Linked DNA regions of Homo sapiens. The protein of the gene in region 1 interacts with the protein of each later gene in a pairwise test. Each region holds a gene or a part of one and is shown in the gene's direction. Other genes may lie near its edges. The genes, in order: FAM221B and LCE2C.

Region 1 (9,419 bases):
TGGTTAATCGGTCTCTCTCCTAGACTCAACTCAATCTAGAGCTTAGCACAGCGGGTCAGTAAAAGCATCAGATTAGGCTCATTGTAAAAGTATAAGTTACATAAATCCATGAAAGAATGGGTGAATGGATTAAAATGCTGTGGATGGAAGTAGAGGGGCAAAGTTATTACACAAAGGCTGAAGATGATGAGAACTTGAATAAAATTGGAAGGGAGAGGAGAGAATGCATTTGGGGAATATTTAGAAGATAGGAAATAGAGTTATTGGTGCCTATTTGAAGATGGAGTCTAAGGGAAAAGGAAAAGACTAGGATAATTCCCAAAGTTCAGTTTTGCTGTCTGTGGAAACACTCAGTTAGAAATGACCAGCAGGGGCCAAGCACGGTGGCTCACTCCTGTAATCTCAGCACTTTGGGAGGCCAAGCAGGGCAGATCACCTGAGGTCAGGAGTTCAAGACCAGCCTGACCAACATGGTGAAACCCCGTCTCTACTAAAAATATAAAACTTAGCCGGGCATGGTGGCACACGCCTGTAATTCCAGCTACTTGGGAGGCTGAGGCAGGAGAATCACTTGAACCCGGGAGGCGGAGGTTGCAGTGAACCGAGATTGCGCCACTGCACTCCAGTCTGGGCAACAGAGCGAGACTCCATCACAAAAAGAGAAGAGAAGAGAAGGCCAGCAGGCAGGTGGGTATGAGTGTGAAGTACAGAGGTTGAAAAAGGTCTGAGCTAGAAATGTGAATTTAGGAGTCATTGGTACACAACTGGAAGTAGTTAAAGCTTTGAACATGAATGACATCATTAAGGGAGGAGGATGTGTGTGGTGCCTAGACAAAACCAGGCTGCGTGCAGTGTCTTGCCTTATGTGACAGCATTCCCCTGCACTCTCAGGAGCCAACCCCAACTTTGGCTTGGTATTGCCAGTCTCTAGAACTCCATGGTCTGACCTCCAGGGTTTTAAGATATGCCAAGGACCCTGCTCTTGGACTGCCCAAGTGGTGTTGTTCAGACTCCCTCCTGGGACATGGTTCTCTGCTACCATCTACTGATGGGATTCGAACTACTTCAGTCTTTCAATCTTTAAGTTCCAGCTCCCTAACAAGCCACAGCAGCATGCCATATGAGGTCTGGACACATGGGTGAACCTTTTGGCATCACACTCTAGGACCCAGAGTTCATGTTGTTTCCCTCTTATATCTCAGCTGCACTGATATCCTTATCCAAATTCCATAATGCACTGCGAACCCTGGGCTCTGCCCTGACTTGCCGGCCCTCTATTTCCAACCTAATGAAGCCTGTACCCTGTTCTACCACTAGATGGAAGCACATGAGATCATAGAAGAGCCTCATATCACCATGGATGCAGAGAAGCACCCCCCTTCAAAGGACCCCTCTGCTGAGGACTTACAGGAGAACCATATCTCTGAAAGCTTCTTGAAGCCTTCCACCTCTGAGACCCCGTTAGAGCCCCATACCTCTGAATCCCCTTTGGTGCCATCCCCTTCCCAGATCCCCTTAGAGGCCCATTCCCCTGAAACCCATCAGGAGCCTTCCATCTCTGAGACTCCTTCAGAGACCCCTACCTATGAGGCTTCATTGGATAGTCCCATCTCAGTGGTGCCAGAGAAACACCTTACTCTTCCTCCCCAATCACGAGACTATGTCTGTCTGTCTTCTTCTGATACTCTGAAGGAAGACCTCTCCTCTGAGTCTTCTTCCAATGAGGTCCCATGGACAAGGAGGTCTACCCATCTCTCTGAATCTGAGAGCCTTCCAGAACACTGTCTTTCAGGCCCTTCATCCCAGGTCCAAGTGGACACAACCGAAAAGCAGGAGGAAGAAGCAGGAGAGGTTGAAAAGGGAGTAGATGCCAGTGACAGCACTGCTCACACAGCCCAACCTGGACACCAACTAGGCAAGAAGAAGAAGAAGAAAGGAGTTAGCTGTAATTGTACCTGTCCTCTCCCCTGTCCTGTTCTCACTACTATTCACTGTCCTTGACTTGCCCCAGGAGGAGGAGACTGGGTTACTCTTGGACATGGCCCCTTCTCTTAGTTTTAGGGCCTTCTCACTTCCCCCTGGTTACTCATCCTCTCCCATCCTAGGTAACACAGCCCGCCCAGTGTTCCCTGCTAGGCAGACAGAGCTGGTGGAAGTGGCTAAGGCAATGCATAGAGAGGAGTTTGGTGCTCAAGTGAACAATCTTTTCCAGTGGGAGAAGGATGCAGCCCTGAATGCCATCCAGACAGGTGAGCCCATGTGGCCTTTCAGAGGCCTGTGACAGGCCCATGGGCATCCTCTAATCCAAAAGATCTGGGAACCTGAACATTCAGCAGATAGCTTCCCCTTTTGGAAATGGCTATACCACCTGCCTGGAAAAGGAGCAGGCAAGTGGGCCAAGGAATACAAGGGTGGATGCAGACAAAAAGTGGGGAGATTCATATAAAGCCCAGGTAGAGACAGGTAGCTGAACTAAAATTATTAAACACAGAAGGGTCGGCTGGGCGCGGTGGCTCACGCCTGTAATCCCAGCACTTTGGGAGGCCGAGATGGGCGGATCACGAGGTCAGGAGATCGAGACTGTCCTGGGTAACACGATGAAACCCCGTCTCTACTGAAAATACAAAAAATTAGCCGGGCGTGGTGGCAGGTGCCTGTAGTCCCAGCTACTCGGGAGGCTGAGGCAGGAGAATGGCGTGAACCCGGGAGGTGGAGCTTGCAGTGAGCCGAGATTGCGCCACTGCACTCCAGCCTGGGCAACAGAGCGAGACTCCGTCTCAAAAAAAAAAAAAAACCAAAAAACAAAAAACAAAAAAAAACAGAAGGGTCATGGCCCACCCCAGATATAGGGCCCAGAGAGCCTACAGACCCTAAAGCAGAGATGGCCCAGGACCCTGGACAGTCCCCAGGAGACTTGCTGTTCTGACATGACAAAGACCTTAGTCCCTTTGGTGGAACTCCATTAAAAGGCTGTCACCCCTGCATGCCAGGCCCATGCTGGGTACCCAAAAGCTTTGAGTTCTGTTACCAAAGGGGAGACCTGTGTCCTCTGGCCCTGCTGTTTCCAAGCCTCAGCCTGTGATTAGTACTCTTGACAGTCCTGTTAGTGGCATGCTGCGTACAGATGAACTTGCAAAAACATGCCATCCTATGCATGAGCATGCCTACCTGTGTTATGGAAATTCATGTCTATAGGGATTACCTTCAGTAAGAGGGCCACCCTGACCTGCTATAAGGATTCTGGTCTTTCTAGACTGAATTCAATAGATGTTATGACATTTATTTTGGTCCTTCATACTTCCTTTCCCTTTATGATGGGAATAGAGCTACGATGACAGGCCTAAAACATAAAGACAAGCAGGTAATTCTAAATGCTTATCCCTCCTCCATGAAATTTACTTTCCCCTTTCCCATGCAGGGACCCTCCACCTCCCCACCCTTGCCCTCCCGCCCCACCACCAACTTTGTTTGCTTATGTTAACATATTCGGTTACTCTTATTTTCTTGCAAATTCTGGCTGGCAAGGTGGCTCACATCTGTAATCCCAAAACTTTGGGAGGCTGAGGCAGGAGGATCACTTAATTGCCCAGGAGTTAGACAGTGAGGACAAGACAGTGAGACCCTATCTCTACAAAAATAAAATAAAATAATCCAGACATAGTGGTGCACACCTGTGGCCCCAGCTACTTAGTAGGCTGAGGTGGGCAGATTACTTGAGCCCAGGAGGTCAAGGCTGCAGTGAGCCGTGATTGTGCCAGTGTATTCCAGCCTGGGTGACAGAATGTCTCAAAAAAAAAAATGCAGGATGTGTTCAGTCCTCTTATTCCCCTACTCAGAACCTCCTGTCTACTCCCTACTCCTCAAGCCCACTGTATTTCTTTTTCTTCTTCAAATTGAACTTCTTCATCTTCCTGTTTAAACAGGAAGTTTTATAAAGAAATTCATGTCATTCAACCCCGAACAATTATATTTGAGGTCCCCTCCTAATAGTGGGGATGTTGAGTCCTGGGTAGTCCATAACAGTATATGTGATGTGTACAGAAATATCAAGTGTAACCTTTGTTTTTATTCATTCGACAAACATTTATTGAGCACCAACTATGTGCCAGGCATTGAGCTAGCTATGGAAGTGGTAATGCTGATGGGGGTTCAAAGACAAAATACTTGGCACTCTAATGAGAGATACCAATAAGTACAAGGACAATTATAATTCACTCTAATAATTGCTATAATCAAGGTTATCCTAGACTGCTGCATGAGCAGAAAAAAAAGGGGCATCTTATCTGGAGTGCTTGAGGAATAGTAAGCCTTGGAAGGAATGACTTCTCAGCTGATATCTGTAAGATGAGTAAGAAGAGGTGGCCAAGTAAAGAGTGCTGTAAGATGAGACATGACAGGGCAAGGCACAGCAGGAATCTATAGCAATGCACTATGCCTGATGCATAGAGTGGTGGGGAGAAGAGCCCACTCTGCTCTAGAAGGGCAGAATTGTGCAGGAATTTCTGTGCCAAGTTAAAAGCTAGAATTATATCCTGAGGGCAACTGAGAGTCACTAGAAGGTTTTAAGTAGGACAATAACATGAACGAATTTCTGTTTCTGCAAGATCACTCTGGCAATAGGGTAGACTGGAGAAAGACAAGACTGGAGTTGTGAGGCTAAGAGAGGAGGTATGGAAAGGCAAGTGAATACATTGTGAGGCACTGGTCATAACCAGGAAAGAAGTAGATGGGCTTAGGTGGAGAGAAGTGGACAGGTTCAAGAAATGCTAACAGGCCGAGCGCAGCGGCTACCACCTGTAATCCCAGCACTTTGGGAGGCCAAGGGGTGGATCACCTGAGGCTAGGAGCTCGAGACCAGCCTGGACAACATGGTGAAACCCCGTCTCTATTAAAAATACAAAAAATTAGCCGGGTGTGGTGGCGGACACCTGTAATCCCAGCTACTTGGGAGGCTGAGGCAGGAGAATTGCTTGAACCCAGGAGGTGGAGGTTGCAGTGAGCCGAGGTTGCACCACTGCACTCCAGCCTAGGCAACAGAGCGAGACTCTGTCAAAAAAGAAAGAAAAGAAACAAGAAAAGTAGGGAAAAGAAAAGAAAAGCTAACAAAGTGAAACTGACCATTGGAACAGTGGATGTATAGGATAAGAGAGAGGGAAATGCCTGGAGTGCCACCAGTTTTTGGCATAAGTAAGTGGTAGGATAATGGTGCCATTAACTGAATGCCTAGAAAAGGGTAGATGCTTGGTAGGCATGTGTTGGATGAACAGAGGACAAAGGATGAGAGCCAGGTTTGGAGGGAATAATTGGGCATAAGACATTTGAAGTGCTTATGAAACATGCTGGCCCAAGAGTCTAGTAGACAGCTGGCTATATGGGTCTGAAGCTCAGGAGAGAGGGCTAGGCTGGAGACATTGTTCCTGTAAAGACAGCCATGTGTTTTATGGAGACATACTATGCATAAAGAGATGTCATCATGCAAATGTGATTATGTGATTGTGGAACTGGACTGTGTTAGACAGAATCAAAATGGCATCCCAAATAATGTCTCCTCCCCCGCCAGGCCTTGTCCACCCACAACAGGAAGGGAGTTTGGAATCAGGACAGAGAGTAGAGGGTCCCACTGGAATCCACAGCCACCTTCCAATTGTCCCACTTTAAGAGCACTAACACTTGTAACAGAATCTGAAGTATAGTTGCCAGTCTCCCTGTTCAAACTCCAGTCTTCTTCATCTGAATGCTGGGCACTGATTCCTACACTAGTGCTTGGACTTGACTGCCCCCCGGCCCTCCGAGCAGGCCTTGATCTTTGGGCCTCACCTCCTGCTTTTTTAATGTATCCTGCTACTCCAGACAGAATTCGGAACTCCTCTAGTGGAATCCTGGCTCCCGCCCACCTGCATTGTGACTGCCTATACCTTGCTCTCTCAACAAAGCCTCCCTGGTGTAAGGGGGCACTGGCACTACAGGCAATCAGCATCAAGACAGAAGAAGCAAAGCCAAAAGCCACATCTAGACAGGCTTTAGATCCTGACAGACTATGGGTAAGACAAGAAAACTTAATCTGAGGCACGGAATTGTGAATTGTGGCCCTGACCACAGTCAAAGACCAGATGATGCCACTCTCCTTATTCATGTTATGGAACCTCAGGGTTATGCCTGAATACTGGCTCTCTCTTCCTCTTGAAGGAATGAGCTCAATTGTTTAATCAGGCAATCTACGTTCTCTCAGCAACCATTTTGTGCCAGGCCTTGTGCTAGGATGAGAGATACGGGTGAAAAGACAGCTCCCTTGAAGAACTCATGGACTAATAGGAATACAAGGGAATGATCTATTATAATGCAGTGTACTGCAACAGGAGTAGCACAAGGAGCTATGGATGGCAATAGGAGGGGCCCAGACAGACAGGGGAAGTCAGGGACACCTTTTTGGTGGAGGTGACATTTCAGTTGAGCCTTTAATTGGGACTAAGAATCCTACACCTGGCAGTCCCACTGCATGGGGCCTCATACAGGATTCTTGGCTAGAAGTTGGGGTACTCTCAGTTCTCATGGAGAATGAGAAAATCTGAATTGGAGGTGCCATCTGGTTATCCTCCCTCAGTTGCACAGCACCACCCTCACCTCAAGACTAGTCACGAAGCCAGGGATTCAGACCTCACTGCTGAACACCAGCTCTCGAGGGTTGTGACCTCTTGCTGGTGCCTACTCTCAGGGACACTTCTTAGCCTCACTTTCCTTTCCACGCCTCCTTGCTTAGCCTCAAAATATATAATTTTTGGTCTTCACCACTCATGACTGCTACCTACCCCTTTCTCCTGACCCTTGAAGAACCTTTGGCAGCCCTTCTTAGGTACACAGAGAGCATTGGTACAATAGCACCAGGAACACAGAGGGAGGTATTAAGGTACCAACGTGGAGACGTGAGAGGAAGCCCTCCTCCTACCTTCCAGCACCAGAGCTATCCAACCTCCTTCTCCTCTTCAGGACCTTCAATAAATATGCTCCTTAGGAGCCAATCCCATTGTCTGTACATCTGGCCAATCATCTTCCCTTTCCCTCACCTTAGACACTTCAAGAAAACAAAGCAAAGTTGGGCTTTAGTGGGATGAGGAGAGGAGATGAGAATCCCTGTGGTCACAGAGAACTCAGTGAGATTCATGTTCATCCTCAAACAAAATTTCATCTATAATCTTCCTGCTCAGAAACCACTCTCTTGAGTCATCTCTGGCAGGCTGACAAAGATGGAGTAGATCCTGGGTAGGAAGAGAACTGAAGACACTTCTGGGGTAATGAGAAAACCCTGAGGAAAAAGAAAATCTAAGGGGTAGAGGTGAGGACTTCCAGGTGGAGATAAAGATACCTGGGGGTGGGGAGAGGTAAGTTCCCCCCACCCCCTCACCTCCATCAAGGGATAGGTAAGAACACTTCGGGGGAGCTTAGAATTTTTTTACTTCTCACTTTTAATCCTGCATACCTAGGTCTCTACATTGGCTGGCGCTGCCCCCATTACCTATGGGACTGTTTCCGGATTGGGGATGAGTCCAGATGCTTTTGTGGACACTTGTTGAGAGAGCACCGGATCATCTCAGGTAGGGGAGAACTGACCAGCCCCTCTCGAGTGTGGAGGAATAACTGTACTCTGTCATGTCTTGGGAAGTATGAGAGAGAGCATGTGGCTGGGCACGGTGGCTCACCCCTGTAATCCCAGCACTTTGGGAGGCGGAGGCGGGTGGATCAAAGGTCAGGAGATCGAGACCATCCTGGCTAACACAGTGAAACACCGTCTCTACTAAAAAATAAATAAATAAATACAAAAAATTTAGCCAGGCATGGTGGCACGCACCTGTAGTCCCAGCTACTCAGGAGGCTGAGGCAGGAGAGTCACTTGAAGCCAGGAGGCGGAAGTTGCAGTGAACTGAGATCATGCCACTGCACTCCAGCCTGGGCGACAGAGCAAAACTCCATCTCAAAAAAAAAAAAAGCATGTCTGCGTGCATAGGGGGTGGTGGGGATGGAGGATGGGGTTGGCATGAGAAGGCAAGGTCCTATCAGATTAACCCTACCATCCATCCCCAATCCCACAGACATATCGGTGCCCTGCAAGGTAAGCCAGTGCCGCTGCTTCATGTTCTGCTTTATCCCATCACGCCCAGAGGAGGTGGGTGAGTTCTGGCTCAAGAGACGGGCCACCTTTGACCCCAAGGCCTGGAGGGCCCAATGTCGCTGCAAACACAGCCACGAAGAACATGCAGCCACTGGGCCCCATCCCTGCAGGCATCATGGTAACTTCTAGGGCAAGAGGTGTATTGGGAGCAGGGTAGGTGGGGATAGGATGCAATCTGGGGATAATGATGGAGAGCAGGTATGAGAGCCTTGGGCATGCGGTCACTGAGGAAGAGATGAGAATGTGGTCAGCTCCTGGGGATACCACCATTTCCTAAACTCTTCTTGGCTGCACTTTTGCCCCAGGCTGTTGCTGCGGCTGTTTTGAGTCTAATTTCCTCTGTGCGGCCTGTGACCGGCGCTGGGAGGAACACGAGACTTTCTTTGACACCCAGAAGACCCGGCAACGAGGAGGAAGGCCTCGCGGTGAGGCAGAAACCTGGGACAGGGGGCCATTCCAGGGTCTGTAGTCAGAAGGCCAGGCAGGAAGGCACTCCCATCCTCAACCATCCCTTCCAGGACTAGCGCGCTCCCTCAGCCCACCTCCCCACCACCCACCTACCTGCATCCCACATCTGCACTGGTTTTCACCCCCAGGAGCAGACTATGTACCTTTTGCAGAGATGGCTGTGCTCCGAGAAGCCATCCTCAGCAACTCTGACTTCTAGGCCCTGCAGATACAGGGGCCCTCTGGCCTTCCCAGCTCCCACCCTAGTCCCCCGGGGCTCCCTGGTTCACACGGTCTCCAGCCTGGCCTCCCTTCTGACCCCCATACCTGACCCTTTCACCTCTGCTCTTTCTTCCTCCAGGGACAGACACTGTCAGCAACTGGCACAGGCCTTTGTGAGTCTGGCCCAGATCAGCAATAAAAGAGGAGTCATTGGAACCTGACTTGGCTCTATATGGGGCAGGTAGATCCCAGCCCAGGGAGAGACTGCCTAATAACTTAGAGTTGACACCTATTAGACACAGGAGAAAGCCTGGATCTGGCCATCTGCCTCCATCACACTCACATTCAAGCTGCCTGTTGAAGGAAAGTGGCTTCAAGGAAGTCAAGAAGGGAGGAAGTTTCAAGAAGGATAGAGTGGGAAGTGATGTTAGATGCAGTTGGGGCACCAATAAGATAAAGACTGAAAAGTGTCCATTGGGTTTTGCAATTAGAAGATCTTTGGGAACATCGGAGAGTGCAGTTTCACACTGGTGCAGTGGAGGCAGGAGTCAAACAGCAGTGAGTTTCAAGGAGTCTCTTAAAGAAG
Region 2 (15,751 bases), on another chromosome or scaffold:
CTCTTATTAAGATGTTCATCTGCCTCCTCATCCTTACTGCTGCTAAGACAAACACCCAGCTGTTTAACCAGTCTGAGATTCTGTACTCTCCGCATTTTAAATCACCCACTGCACTGAGTCAGTTTATTTGACTTGATGCTCTTCATTATTTTTTCCAGTCTCATTATTAACTGAATTTTCAAGTCCCTGACCAGTAGTAATTTTGAGCTTCTAAAAATATGTACATTGGCCATTTCTACAAAATTTGTAATATGATTTTAAATTTTCTTTTCAATTTTCAAGAGCTCTTGATATATCATGGATATTAACCTTGATCTGTGTTTATTAAAATATTTAATGCATCAGATTTAATTGAATCCATTTATAATAGCTTTTGCTATGGAAAGATTTTTAGTTTTTATATACTCAAATATGACTTTCTTCGCTTTTATAGCTTCAGGGTTTCCTGAGTTGGTTAAGAAGTTTTCCCTTGTCCTTAGTGTTTACATGTGAGCAGCAAAACAAATGAAAAAACCAAACAGTACAAAATGGAGTGCCAAGCATGGGACCTAAGGTTGCCCGGGGCAGTTGAAGGCTGGCCTACAGAGAGGTGGACACCCAAGTGTGCTTTCAGGGACCTCTGCCTTAAGTAAGAGCAACCCACCGGCCATTCCCTTCCCCAGTGGGCCTGCTATCTGGGCCTCCATGTGCTCCTTTCATAGTGAGCAACTTCCTTTCTCTATCTAACCCTCCATACACAGAATAATTTCCCATCTAACTTTTTTTGTTTTAAATTATGCTTTAAGTTCTGGGATACATGTGCAGAACGTGCAGGTTTGTTACATAGGTATACACGTGCCATGGTGGTTTGCTGCACCCATCAACCTGTCAACTACATTAGGTATCTCTGCTAATGCTATCCCTCCCCTAGCCCCCTACCCACTGACAGGCCCTGGTGTGTGATGTTCCCCTCCATGTGTCCATGTGTTCTCATTTTTCAACTCACACTTATGATTGTGAACATGCAGTGTTTGGTTTTCTGTTCCTGTGTTAGTTTGCTGAGAATAATGGTTTCCAGATTCATCCATGTCCCCCCAAAGGACATGAACTCATCCTTTTTTATGGCTGCATAGTATTCCATGGTGCATATGTGCCATATTTTCTTTATCCATTCTAACATTTGTTTTTAGCTGCATCTTACTTTGTGTTTGGCATGTGTGCAGGTGTGTTAGAAAATTATGTTCGGATGCTATCAGAGGAACTCAAAATTACAGCAATTTAAAAAGGAAAGCAGACTATTTCCACTCACATATGATGAAGTCAGAGGTCAGTGGTCCATGGCTGGTACGGTGGTTCCCTGGAGTCTTCAAAGATGGATACCCCTATGTCTTGTCAATTCATTGTTAGCAGTTGTTTCCTGGGAGGTAGTTGGTGATCTCGAGGTGCCTGATAGAGTTCTGATCTGCAAGGCTGTGCTTCAGGTAGGAAGAAGGAGAAAGGGTGGGTAAAAGGCCCTGACCCCAGTAAAGCCTCTTACCTGAGCTTTCCTAAAGTCCCAACAATTTCCTGAATCTCACTGGCTGCTTGTACATACAAGGGGGATGGAGAAGTGTAAATTTTGATATCTGAACATGATTTGGTTCTGGTCAAAATTTAAAGATATAAGTTAAGAATGAAGGGGGCATGTATGTTGGGCACTATCCAATTAAGTAATTTTCTATACAGTTTGACCTGCTGAGTAAAGACAGCTGGATTGCTGGTTATCTCGAAATAGTGACACAGACTCTCTGAGTGCACTTCAATTACCTCTTAACACAAACATTCAGGAACATCCTGCCCACAGTTCCACCTCCATGGGCTCTGCTGTATGCACTGAGGCAAGCCTGCATGGAAGGTTGATTAGGCAGGGGAATTCCCTGGTGAGGCTGAGGTCTGGAGTGCTGTGGGGAGCTCCCTGCAGACAGGCACAAGACCTGGCTTATGGATGCCTGGGGTAGGCTAAGAGTTACTTCTGCCTGTCTCCCCATCTCTAATCCATCCATCACCCAGCTGTGGGCCAAGAACCAGGGGTCTGGATCATCTCTCAAGGGCAGGAAGAGGGTGAGACTCTGAGAAGTGTGCAAGAAGAAAACATATTTGGTGTTATGGCTTCATCTCTTTCAAAGGTATCTAGAGTTGGAGGGTGACAGATGATTAACTCTGAGTTGGGTTATCTGAAATATGACCCAAGTGAGGATAGTCAACAGTAACCAGAACATATTATGAAAAGGAAAATGTAGATGTATTGTCACCTGGGCCAGAATCCCCACAGAGCACTTTCACCTCCACATCGAGTGAAAATTCTACCTGGTCACTCTCTTGTGTCCCCAAAGGGTCATCCCAGGAAGAGGGAAGAGTAGAAAAGGAGTTTTGGGCCAGGATGGATTCTTGAGTGTGTGGTTATCTCAACTCGGACCCTCTGAGATTTCATAGCAGTGCCCGAGAGCTGCGGCGCTGCTCTCTCACAGACTCCCCAGGCTCTGTCGCTGCTGCTGCAGCAGCTCTGCAGTTAAAGTCAGCTGGCTCTGTGGTGCCCATGCTAACTCCAGGAGCAGCTGCTCCCAGAGTAGGAAGAACAGTATCTCCAGTGCTAAGAAAAACTTGAGACTGAGGGATGAGCATATTGCCAGGCTCTTGGGAGGAAGCCTGCTGCTGGCTCAGTTTTCAGGATATCTCAACATGAGTTAAGCTGAGAGTGAATTCAGCAGTAGACCACATGTGTAAACCTAGAATAAGGATACCTTTGCTTTTTCTAAACAATTATCCCTCTGCTTCTAATTAATTGGCAAAGCCATTAATATTTAGAAAGACATTCCCCGTGTTACCATTTCATGGTTGCTCTTTGGTCTTGCTAGGTCAGATTTCAATCCTAGTCAACCCCCATGCTGGTTGCATTGCTGCAGCTGCACACCTAATTCAGAACTCTGTACAGTAATTGTAGAATTAGGTAATTCTAAACTTTTGTGCTTGTTATAAGATACGTACTCTTATAAGTGTTTTATGTGTAACTCAACCAAAGGATCAATTAATTCACACAATGTTGCTATTAGGTAATTACAGTTATTTTCCACACTTCATAGATGAGAAAACAGAGGTACAGACAACTTTGAGAACATTTCTAGGGTTCTAAGGCAAGTACCTGGTACTCAGAATATAACTCTAGGTGATATAGCTACTTAGTCTGTGATCTGAACCAGTTCTCTGGAGTTAAACTGGAAAGGCCTGCATTATTTACCATGTGTGAAATTGAAACAGCTTATGGTAAGATCTTCTCAACAAGCTAGACTTAAAGCAGCTATCCCCTAATTTTCCTGCCTGGTATACTAATGTTTCTGGGCTAGTTCCCATACTGCACAAAAGAAATCTCGATTTCTCATACCTTTCTCTTCACCCATGTCCCTCTGTCCTTTCTGAAGAATATAGTCACAGTGGGCAGAGATTATATTTCTTTTATATCATGTTGTACTCCAGAGTTTGCTACATAGTCAACAATACATGCTGAGTGTGTGTGAGAGTGATTTTTGAACTCTGAATATTGAACTTACTAATGGAAGACAGTCCCAAAAAATCCTCAGTTTTTTTTTCTCTTTAGTGATGTTCTGTTCTTTTAATTCACCTGATCATATCCTTCTCTCATTTACTCTCATAAGGCTGTCTAATGTTTACCTAATTTGCTCAGTACTGAGTCTTTGGAAATAGTTCCTTGCTCCAGGGAATCCCAAGGCATGGATAGACAGTGATTGCAATTATAATATTTGATTAATGTAACCTATTCATATAACACTAAAATTTTTCTAATTCTAGTGATTAAAATGATATAAATACTGGATACAAATGGGCATAGGCAGTGTGGGCACTGGTGTATGTGTGTGAAGGGATCATATGTAATTAACATAGTTTTATCCCGTGATAACCTATAAATAGTGCTGTCTGGGTCATGAAAAACTATAGGTTCTGTCTTTGTTTTGATTGGGAAGTAAGTGCACAGATATTGCATAAAAGAGAGGTTACATGGACAATGAGTTTGTCAGGAACTTGGTATGAGAGAGAGATTTAGAAAGCATAGTTATAAATAATCTGGAAAATTCATCCCACCAAACAAAATAATTGGCTATCTGGACCAAACAGTTGGTCTGACATTGTGTGTGTGTGTGTGTGTGTGTGTGTGTGTGTGTGTGTATGGTACTGTATCTAAGCTGTGTGTAAATTTGTTCTCAGAAACCTGCTGACCTTATACTAAAGTTCTCAAAATCTTTTTTGGTTAAATTTTCTGAACTTTATTCCCAGCTGTGTGAAGTTGGGCTATTTGTTTAGTCCTAGGAGTCTTTGTTTTCTCATTAGTATAGTGGGGATATTAATACTACCTACATCACAGAATTGGCATGAGGATTAAATGAGATAATGTATATAAAACAATTAAATAGGACCTAGAACAAAATAGGTGGTCAATAAGCATCAGTTATTATATTACATTTTGTTATTTTTATCATTTGTACAGATGTGTGTGTATATATGTATATATACATATGGAGGCAGTTGACCCAAAAGTACAGTTCCACTCAATGTATACCTCAGGGGAAGACATGGAGGTAAGGAGAACTGTTTTAGTTAGAGATTTCCAGAGAAATAGAAGAGATGGAGGGATAAGTTTATATTAGGAGATTGGCTAATGTGATGACTGTGGGGGCTGGCAAGTCTGAAATCTTGCCAGACCCCACAATCATCGCATGATAATTGTGATGATTATGCAGGCCAGCAGGCTGGAAATTCAGGTAACAGTTGATGTTGCAGCCTTGAGTCTAAATTCTGCAAGGCAGTAGTCTGGAAACAGGCAGAGTTTCTATATGGCAGTGTTGATGATAATTTCTTCTTCTTTGGAAACCTCAGTCTCTGCTATTAAAGGCTTCAGCTGATAGGATGAGGCTCACGTTAGGAAAGATAATCAACCTAGTCAGTCTACTGATTACATGCATACAAAGCAACATCTGGACTGGTGTTTGATCAACAACTGGATATCATAGGATAGCCTAGGCAAAATTAACCATCACAGAGACTGAGAGGATACATGGAGGTCATTAGAGATATGATCCAACAGACAGAAGAGGTCTTCTGTTGACAGAAGAGGGTCAGCAGTGACCAGGACACACTAAGAACATGCCATGATGGTTTTATTTTCACTTAGGATAAAGGCAAATTTCTGGACAGACCTTTGGAGAATATTGGGAAAACAGAACCTTCTACCTGGTAACCCCATGAGTCTCAACAAGGCTGTGATGTTAGGAGGACTGGAGGGAGGGAGTGCAGCATGTGGCTGGGGAGGCCCTTGGCCTTTGCACTTTGGTTCCACAGAGGTGTAGTCAGTACAGCACAGACAAGGCTGCTGACCACTGCACGGTAGCTGGAACTCTGGGAGCTGATGAAGCTGTAGCTGCTTCCCATGCGGGGTCAGTCACACAAGAAGAACTGGAGGTGAACATGGGCTGTGCACTGGAGTGGCACTGTGAAGGGCTCTTTAAAGGCATTGGCATTACTGGTGGTGTTTTGGCAAGGTATCTGAGTTTGAAAATGAATCGAGCAATAAGTCAGATAAATTAGAGCCAATATGGGCATAATTTTGCCCTTTTAAACCTATTCATGGTGTGCTGGCAGACAGTTTATAAAATACATTAGTATCTAATAGTACCTATGAAGAACCATATAACCCCAAGTTAAAAGTGTTAGAAGTGACATTTCTGAAAACAGAACTAATGCTAAATCAATGTCAATTTCTGTCTCTCATCATTTCATTTCATATCTACAGACCCATTTACTACCTACTATATTTCATGAGCGTAAAGAGGCTATCAGTTGTAAGGGGCACCCTTATTTCATGCACCACAAGGAAATAAAAATTTTGCAAATTCAACTATTACATGCCACCATTCATATGGTATACACTGATTTAAGGGCTGTTAAAAAATGTAAGAAGAGTGTATCATGGAATTGATGAATTAAGTATAAAATCCATCCTCTTCAGGTCATATAAACATGTATGTACAAACTAGACAGGCCAATTCTTGCTTTGCCCAGGACACCCCTCTGCTGTGCTCCTCCCTATCACTGGGCCGTCTTCTCCTTTCATATTCCATACTCCCGGTGTTGCTCTTAAGACTCCCATATGGTTCTGCTGAGAGCCAGTTTGATGGCTCCCCCTGGCAAACTCACCCTGGTAACCAGGCAAGGAAAATGGCATGTCCCAGATGAGGCAAAACAGATGCGGGGCAGTGTTGGGACATCTCTTATAAGCTATGCTAATACCAAGATCTGAAGTGAGTCCCAGCTCTAGCAGGACCACGACACGTGAATTCTCCAGCAGCTCTCTGCCTGGAATTCATGCCCCTCTGATGTCCATCAGCCAATATGACTTCAGCAAGAACCCATTCTGGACCTGGGTTTTGAAGCCCCAGTTTCTGAGAAACCATCTCTTGTTAGGAAATTGGGGGTTAAACTTATCCAAAACTTAAAATTAAGCAAAAAAGTGATTTCTGATTAGTCTTTTAAATTTTTACTTCTTCCTAGTAACTAACAACCTTGCCTAAGGTGTATATGACTCTCTAGGTTTTTAAAAAAAATGGTGGCATGATTTTACTTAATGTATTTGGTATTGATCAAGGCCCAGACACTGTAAAGCTAGATTTAAATTATAGAAGATTTGTAAGTTGAAAATTATTTTGTGTGCTCTAGAAAATTTAACCTAATGGTTTCATTGCCTTTGAAAACTTTAACCAGTTTTGTATCTAAATTTGCAATCTTGTTCCAGAATTTTTTTGGTCTCTCCTATTCTTTGAACCAGCATTACCATCATGCTGATTCTCTTATTAACAAGTGAAACAAATCTTTATAATATGCCTGCTATATATTTATATGAGTCATGCTTTTAACTTTTTGGAAATTACAATTCAATAAACCCTTATCTCCACACATACCCTTTCAGGAGTGGAAACTGGGCCAAAATCAGACAGTGCCAGACAGTGTTGACAAGAAGATGAAAAGGACTACAAAGATATAGTAAACGGAAAATTTGGATTAGTGAATCTACTAAATAAGATGAGATACATCAAGGGACATGGTAAGGCTTTTTCTTGTACTGTGGCTAAAATAAAGTTCCAGCATTTGGTGGGGGATAATTTTCTGGAATATACGGAGTTTAAGTTCCCAGGGAGACAATTCAAGGAGCTACTTGGAAATATCAGCTTTCAGGAGACTGACTTTCCAGATGAGGTGAACTTCAGATGAAATGTCTGGAATCAATCCCAGGCCATTCTTTTCATGTCACCTGTGTACTTGTTCATGTGGTCCTGCAATCATGCATTGATTCTGCCAACACTCATGAGACAATTAAGTGTTTGGCTGGTCCCTGAGGGAACATGCACAATGTGACATGGGGTCTTCTGGCTCAGAGGGATCACCTATGATGATGTGAGGGCTGTGGAGACAGAAGCAAGAATACTTGCAGGCAGGTGTTTCTTCACTGACTTGTGAACTAATTATCAACATTTTCTGAGATATAAAGGGACAAAGGGGACATGTTAAACAGCTGCTTATCTCCCAGTTCTGGTTTCCCAGGGGATCGGGTCCCATTAATTCTTCCATCGCTTATTCAACCACTCAATACAGACGCTCATGTATGTGCATGTTCATTTTACCTGAATTTTTGTATAAATACAACATACACACATACAGAGCACACACCCACATACACACACACACAGACACAGACTTGCCTCCCCTACTTCCTCACTTACCACATTGTTACAAATATCTTTGTCAAAGAGTATGAGGAAGCTGAGGGTGATATCACCATGAAGACAGTGGAATGAACTAACATGTTCTAATCACACTGGGAAATAGTGACTCAGGAGGTTCAGGCCCCAAACGTCATCTTCTTTGGACCTATGTTTGTCTGCAGTCATCTTCAAAAAGGCTACAAAAATTCTACAGTCCTTGAGGTCATGGGCTACTTATTATTCACCTCTATATCCCTATATTTGGACATACATGATTCAAGAACGTTGTAGGCTTTCAAAGAATGCCTTTTGAATTCACTGCTCTGACCACACTGTTGACTTACTTTATCCTTCAGGTAAAAGCTTCCTGAGAGCAGGAATCAGATCTGATAATAGGATTGCATAACTAGGAGAACAGAATCCCTCAGTTAGAAGCTGACAATGGGAAACTATGCTTTCTCCGCATCCTCCCCTCCCCCACTAAGTAGGCATTAGGCAATGTGAAGGCACAGTCTGTTTCTGTTTTAATCAGAGGTGTGAATATCTATTTTTTTCAATTCTAATTTTTAACACCTTTATTGAGATGTAATTAACATATTTGTAGTTCATTTGTTTAAAGTGTAAATTCAATGGTTTTCAGTATATTCACAGAGTTGGACAATCACCACCATAATTTTAGAACATTTTCATTACTTCACAAAGAAAACCTGTATCCATTGGCAGTAACTTCTCAATATCTCCCAGCCCGCTAAAGCACCTGGAAGCCACTGATATTTCTCAGAGGACAGGCATAAACATAAAAGGAGATACAGGGAACAGAATCTCATCCAGGCTCTTGTTCCTCGGATGCCCTGAGTCAGCTCTTCAGGGGTCCAGCCTGGGAGAGGCTGTAACTGGCTAAAGCCTCATCCCCTTTCTATTTCCAGAGATTTGCCTACTCTACACATTTCATATAAATAACATCATACAATATGCAGTCTTTTGTGACTGGCTTCTTTCACGTAGTGTAATGTTTTCAAGGTTCACACTCAATGTATCTGTTTAAACTAAATGAATAAATGACTGGGTAACTCTGTCTAGTGCAACCCTGAATCAGAACTCTGAATAACTAGATTCCTGGCTGACCCTCTACTTCCTGGTAGGAAAGGAGTTCCCTCTGCATAGGAGCCCCAAGAAATGATGTCTACTTCCCAAGACAGGTTTCAAATAATCTAAGTGTCTGGTGGAGTTAAGCTCTCTGAGGGTAAGGGCTCTATATGGGCAATTAATGACACATAAGACCGGGGCAAGTATCCAATACATGGCATTAGTTTTTCTATTAAACATATATTTATTAAGGGTCTATCAGGCACAAAATGTCATACTTAGCTCTTTCTTGCTTCTCACTTTATATTACAAACAGCTCAGTGAGATAGGTATATCTCACTGATAGGTTTATAATGGGCATTATATGTGAGAACTGATACTCACAGTGAGTATCATAGTAATACTCTAGCAATTATTGATAATTGTTACAGCAACTTTCAGAGATTACCCAGTTATCATATGCAAGTTTTCTGATTCCAGTAGCACATTCAATACAAGTCCTCTGACTGAAGGAAATGTTTAGATTTTAGAGGGAATTGTTTATTCTCAATCATTCTCCTTGCTTTAGGTGACAGAATCAACTCAGATTTAATCCACCGAATCTGCTTGCCATGGTGAGTCGGAGGAAAAGCAGAAACACAGAGGCCAGGAGGAAGGGCTGAGAGCCTAGGCAAGGGAGGGATGCCTAGAAAAAGCCAAGGCTGTAGAAGCCCTCTGGGATGGCTGGATCCACAGCAGGACATGGAAGAGAAACTGCTCAGGGTGGAGGGAGTCATAATGGAACATTTCCACAAGGTCAGGGAAAGCTGTGGCTCAGAACTGATGTTTCCTCAGAGGACATGCATTAAAAAAATGCAGGGAACAGAATCTTGTCCAGGTGTGGGTCCCTTGGGTACCCTAAGTTAACTCTTTAGGGTTCCCACCTGGTGGAGGCTCTGACTGGCTACAGCCTCTCTAGACTGCAGCCCCAGAGAGGAGTCCTGGAAGCTCCTGAGGCCTCTTTGGATTGCAGGGACTAAGAGGCAGGAGAATGTCAGGAATGACCCAGCGTGTGCCTGGTTGTGCAAGAGCCACCTCCTGCTCTTTCCAGAGCCAAGCCTGGGCCCTATAAAAGACACATCCAGCTTCAGCATCTCATCTGCTCTGACTCCCCAGGGACGTGTCTGTGCTCCTGCGTGTGACCAGGGTGAGTGGCAACCTGGGATACCAGAGGGGTATGAGCAAGGCAGAGGGATGGGGAGGATGGAGGTAGGCTGGAGAAAGAGTTGTGTGCTTGTGTTCTGCCATACTGAGCAGGAATGGGACTCAGCCTGCCTCGAATCTGTTGAGGCTCTGAGGCCTACCGGAGCTCATATAGGTGGGGAAAGCTAACTGTGCACATCTTTTCCAATTCTGTGTTCAGTGACTTCATGTTGGTAACTTCAAAACTGCTGTGTTGGGCATATTTACACCATGGAAACTGGCAAATACTTCAAGCCAGGCTCTTTTATCTGGAGGTTTCATTGCAAAATATTTTCCAGAGGACCCCTTGGTATGTCCTGCAACACCCAGCTTGTCCTTAGGGCTTGTATTAAAGGAATAGGTACTTCAGGGAGCTGTGAATACTCTATTCGGGCTTGTGAGGATAGAGCAATCGCAGTTTCCCCTGAAAGGAAGAGTAAGAAGCTCATTCTGTTGATTTTTTATCTACGTACTTTTATCTAGAGGAAAGATTCAAGTTGTTTCTTTCAGGTTACTGATGTGATTGTATTATCTAAATATCATTCTTCTTCTACACATGCATTGATTTTAGAAGAGGTATAATATGATCCTTGGTTTGAAATATTTAAAGAGTTTCATTATTATCTTTCAGGTTGACTAAACTCCTGCCAGCATGTCTTGCCAGCAAAACCAGCAGCAGTGCCAGCCCCCTCCCAAGTGTCCTCCCAAGTGTACCCCAAAATGTCCACCTAAGTGTCCCCCCAAATGCCCACCACAGTGCCCAGCTCCATGTTTCCCTGCAGTCTCTTCTTGCTGTGGTCCCAGCTCTGGGAGCTGCTGTGGTCCCAGCTCTGGGGGCTGCTGCAGCTCTGGGGCTGGTGGCTGCTCCCTGAGCCACCACAGGCCCCGTCTCTTCCACCGGCGCCGGCACCAGAGCCCCGACTGCTGTGAGAGTGAACCTTCTGGGGGCTCTGGCTGCTGCCACAGCTCTGGGGGCTGCTGCTGACCTGGGCTACAGAAGAGCTCTTGGGACTGAATGGCCAAGAACCTGCTACGGCCTGATGGATACTCTTTCCACTTCCTCTCATTCCATTCATTGGTTGGCAGAGACCACAAAGACTCATGGGGCTTTCCTGGAAGAACTTCGTGCTTGATGTAACACCCCAATTGCAAGTCTTCTTTTCCTCCTTTACCTCATGTTATAATAAAGCTCTGATCTCTGACTCACTAAATGTCTTGGTCATTCTCTTCTCTTCTGAGATTTCAAATGTCCTCCAAAGGTCAGGGCCTCAGAGTAATTTTCTTCATGAGGCTAGGACAGGACATGAGTAGGTGATACATGAAAAGCTGCTCTGAGGAACTGATTCCCCCAGATGCTGAGTGAATGGAGCTCCAAGAGGGTCACCTCTGGCTATGGTAGCTTTGCCTTTCTCTCCACTAAGCCAGACACATGTTCTAATTTTCTGTGTAATCCAGACGTTGGGAAGGTTGGGAAGCTCTGCAGACTTGTTCTTCTCTAGGGAGAAGAACACATCCCTATGAAGCAAAACTTTCCTGCCCTTAGAATCAATAGTTGGATAAAATGCTTGAAACAGATGTTGAGACCCTTCCTCCTGTAAAGTACAGCCCATGGTCACTCAGCTTCTTTTCATGAGTCTGGTTAAGATCAGCCTTTTGACTTGCTGCCTTGGACACCTGGCTTCAGTTCCTCACAGTGTTAGATCTGAGTCCCAGGATGCTGTCCTGCCACTTGGCTCACGTGCTGGGCAGGGGAGTGATGAGTGATGGAGATATTAAGTGAAAAAACATGGAAGTGTTGCTTAGAAGATACAAAGAATATAAGGAACATAAGAATACAAAGAATACAAAACGCTGTATGAAAGAATAGACCTTTCCTCCTTCAATACTTATCTTTTTTGCCAAGCCACCCTCAGAATGTGAGGGGGGAGAAGCGCCAGGATGGGTGGGGCATCTTAAGTATTACTAGAGGAAGGGGAGGGAAGCAGGGACACAGCAGGGGAAACAAGGGCTAGTGCTTCTTAGGTTCAGGCTGACAGGTGTCGACATGAAGATAATGGATTCAGCAAAGACGGATTTTGACAGAGATGGAGCCTCTTATTAATATGTTTACCTTCTTACTTACCCTTAGTGCCACTAAGACAAAAACCCAGCTGATTAACCAGTTTGAGATTCTGTACTGTCTGCATTTTAAATCACCCTCTGCACTGAGTCAGTTTATTTGACTCAATGCTCTTTATTATTTTGCCAGTCTCATTATTAACTAATTTTCAAGTCCCTGACCAGTAGTAATTTTGAGCTTCCATAAATATGTACATTGGCTATTTCTACAAAATTTGTAATAGGATTTTAAATTTTCTTTTCAATTTTCAAGAGCTCTTGATATATCATGGATATTAACCTTGATCTGTCTTTATTAAAATATTTAATACATCATAATTAATTGACTCTGTTTATAATAACTTTTGCTATGGAAATATTTGTAGTTTTTAAATACTCAAATATGACTTTCTTTGCTTTCATAGCTTCAGGGTTTCCTGAGTTGGTTAAGAAGTTTTTCCTTGTCCTTAGTGTTTACATGTCAGCAAACAAAACAAATAAAAAAACCCAAACAGTATAAAATGGAACACCAAGCGGGGGACCTAAGGTTGCCTGGGGCAGGTGAAGGCTGGCCTGCGGAGGGGTGGACACCCGAGTATGCTTTCAGGGACCTCTGCCTTAAGTAAGAGCAACTCACCGGCCCTTTCCTTCTCCAGTGGGCCTGCTATCTGGGGCTCCATGTGCTCCTTTCATGGTGAACATAATCCTTTCCTTATCTAAACTTCCATACACAGAATAATTTCCAATCTGACTATTGGTTTTTACTTGCATCTTATCTTATGTTTGGCATGTGTGCATGTGTGTTAGAAATTAAGTTCTGCTACTATCACAGGAACTCAAAATCACAGCAATTTAAAGAGGAGAGCAGGCTATTTCCACTCACATGTGATTAAGTCAGAGGTCAGTAGTCCATGGCTGGTATGGTGGTTCCCTGGAGTATTCAGAGATGGATACCCCTCTGTCTTGTCATTTCATTATTAGTGCTTATTTCCTGAGAAACAGTTGGTGATCTCAAGATGCCTGATGGAGTTCTGATCTGCAACGCTGTACTTCAGGTCTGAAGAAAGAGAAAGGGTGGGTGAAAGGTCCTGATCCCAATAGAGCCTCTTACCTGAGCTTTCCTAAAGTCCCAACAATTTCCTAAATCTCACTGGCTGCTTGTATGTACAGAAGGGATAGAGAAGTATAAATTTTGATATCTGGACATGGTGTGGTTCTGGACAAAATTTAAAGATGTAAGTTAAGAATGAAGTGGAGCACGCACATTGCGTACACATCCAATCAAGTAGTTCTTGATATAGTTCAACCTGCTGAGTAAAGACAGCTGGATTGCTGGTTTCTGGAAATAGCGACACAGACTCTCTGGGTACACTTCACTTACCTCTTAATGCAACATTCAGGAACGTCCTGCCCACGTTTCCACCTTTATGGTCTCTGCTGTATGCACTGAGGCAAATCTGCCTGGAAGGTTGATTAGGCAGGGGAATTCACTGCCTGCAGCTGAGGTCTGGAGTGCTCTGGGGGGCTCCCTGGAGACAGGCACAAGACCTGGCTTATGGAAGCCTGGCGGAGGCTCCAGGTTACTTCTGCCTCCTGTCTCCCCACCTCTAATCCACCCATCACCCAGAAGTGGGCCAAGGATCAGGGGTCTGGATCATCTCTCAAGGGCAGGAGGAGGGTGAGGCTCTGAGAAGAAGTGTGCTGTCCAATCAGAAACCATACTTGGTGTTATGGCTGCATCTCTTTCAAAGGTATCTAGAGTGGGAGGGTGACAGATGATTAACTCTGGGTTATCTGAAATATGACCCAAGTGAGGAGAGTCAACAGTAACCAGAACACATTGTGAAAAGGAAAAGGTGGATAGATTGTCACCTGGGCCAGAATCCCCAGAGAGCACTTTCACCTCCACATCGAATGAAAAATTCTACCTGGTCACCCTCTTGAGTCCCCAGAGGGTCAGCCCAGGAATAGGGTAGAGTAGAAAGGAGTTTTGGGCCAGGATGGATGCTTGTGTGTGTGGTTATCTCAACTCGGACCCTCTGAGATCCACAGCAGTGCCCGAGAGCTGCGACGCTGCTCTCTCACTGACTCTCCAGGCTCTGTCGCTGCTGCTGCAACAGCTCTGCAGCCAAGGTCTGCTGACTGTGTTTTGCCTGTGCTAACTCCAGGAGCAGCTGCTCCCAGAGCAGGACCAACACTAACCCCAGTGCTAAGAAAAACTCCAGAGCCTGAGGGACCAGCATATTGGCCGGCTCTTGGAGGGACTCTTACTGTTGCTGGCTCAGTTGGCAGGATATCTTAACATGAGTTCAGCTGGAAGTGAATTCAGCTGAACAGAACACATGTGTAAACTAGAATAAGGCTACTTTTCATTTTCTAAACAATTCTCCTTCTGCTTGTAAATAATTGGCAAACCCACTAATATTCAGAAAGAAATTCCCCATGTTACCATTTCATGGTTGCTCCTTGACCTTGCTAGGTCAGATTTCAATCCTAGTCCACCCCCACGCTGGTTGCATTGCTCCATCTTCACACCTAATTCAGAACTATGTACAGAAAGAGTAAAACTATGTAATTCTAAACTTTTGTGCTAGTTATAAGATATGCACTCTTATAAGTGTTTCAGGTGTAACTCAACCAAAATAACAATTAATTCACACAATATTGCTGTTAGGAAATTACAGCTATTTTCCACACTTCATAGATGAAAAGACAGATGCACAGACAATTTCGGGCACATTTCTAAGGCTTTAAGGCAAGTAACTTGTTCTCAGAATCCAAATCTAGGTGATTTAACTACATTCTGTGGTCTCAACAAGTTCTCTGGAGTTAAACTGGGAAGGCATGCACTATTTACTGTGTGTGAAATTCAAACAGCTTATGGTAAGTTCTTCTCAACAAGCTAGACTTAAAACAGCTATTCCCTTCTTTTCTTGCCTGATATACTAATGTTTCTGTGTTAGTTCCCACACTGCATAAAATGAGCCTCTATTTCTCATGCCCTCTTCATCCACGTCCCTCCCTCCTTTCTGAAGAATATAGTCACAGTGGGCAGATATTATATTCCTTTCATATCATGTAGTATCCCCAGAGTTGGCCACATAGTCAACAATACTTGCTGAGTGTGTATAAGAGTGAATTAATAAACTCTGATTATTGAATTTACTAATGGGAGACAGTCCAAGAAAATCCTCAAATTGTTTTCTCTTTAGAGATGTTCTTTTCTTTTAATTCATCTGATCATATCCTTCTCTCATTTACTCTTGTAAGAACTGCTTAATAGTTACCTAATTTGCTCAGCACAGAATTCTTGGAAAAGTTCCTTGCTCCAGGGAATCCTAAGGCATGGATATGCAGTGATTGCAAATAGAATATTTAATTAATGTGCACTATTCATCTAACACTGACATTCTTCTAATTCCAATGATTAGAAAGAAATACTGGATATAAATGGACATAGGCAGTGAGGGTGTTGGTGTGTGTGTGTAGTGATCATATGTAATTAACATAATTTTCTCCCATGATAGCCTATAAATAGTGCTGTCTGGGTCATGAAAAACGAT

What was found.
Region 2: the proteins of FAM221B (region 1) and LCE2C interact in binary tests that used the Homo sapiens proteins (3 or more experiments, as listed by UniProt).

The regions. Positions count from the first base shown.
Region 1 is NC_000009.12:35,818,060-35,827,478, reverse strand, and holds part of FAM221B (protein FAM221B), read left to right. Parts: intron 1-541; exon of another isoform or gene 542-687; intron 688-1,317; coding exon 1,318-1,915; coding exon of another isoform or gene 1,916-1,945; intron 1,946-2,105; coding exon 2,106-2,249; intron 2,250-5,850; exon of another isoform or gene 5,851-6,037; coding exon of another isoform or gene 6,038-6,041; intron 6,042-7,478; coding exon 7,479-7,589; intron 7,590-8,084; coding exon 8,085-8,282; intron 8,283-8,469; coding exon 8,470-8,589; coding exon of another isoform or gene 8,590-8,633; exon of another isoform or gene 8,634-8,972; coding exon 8,973-9,010; coding exon of another isoform or gene 9,011-9,032; 3' UTR 9,033-9,419.
Region 2 is NC_000001.11:152,665,273-152,681,023, forward strand, and holds LCE2C (late cornified envelope protein 2C), read left to right. Parts: upstream 1-10,006; 5' UTR 10,007-10,056; intron 10,057-10,722; 5' UTR 10,723-10,743; coding exon 10,744-11,076; 3' UTR 11,077-11,297; downstream 11,298-15,751. UniProt on the Homo sapiens protein: Precursors of the cornified envelope of the stratum.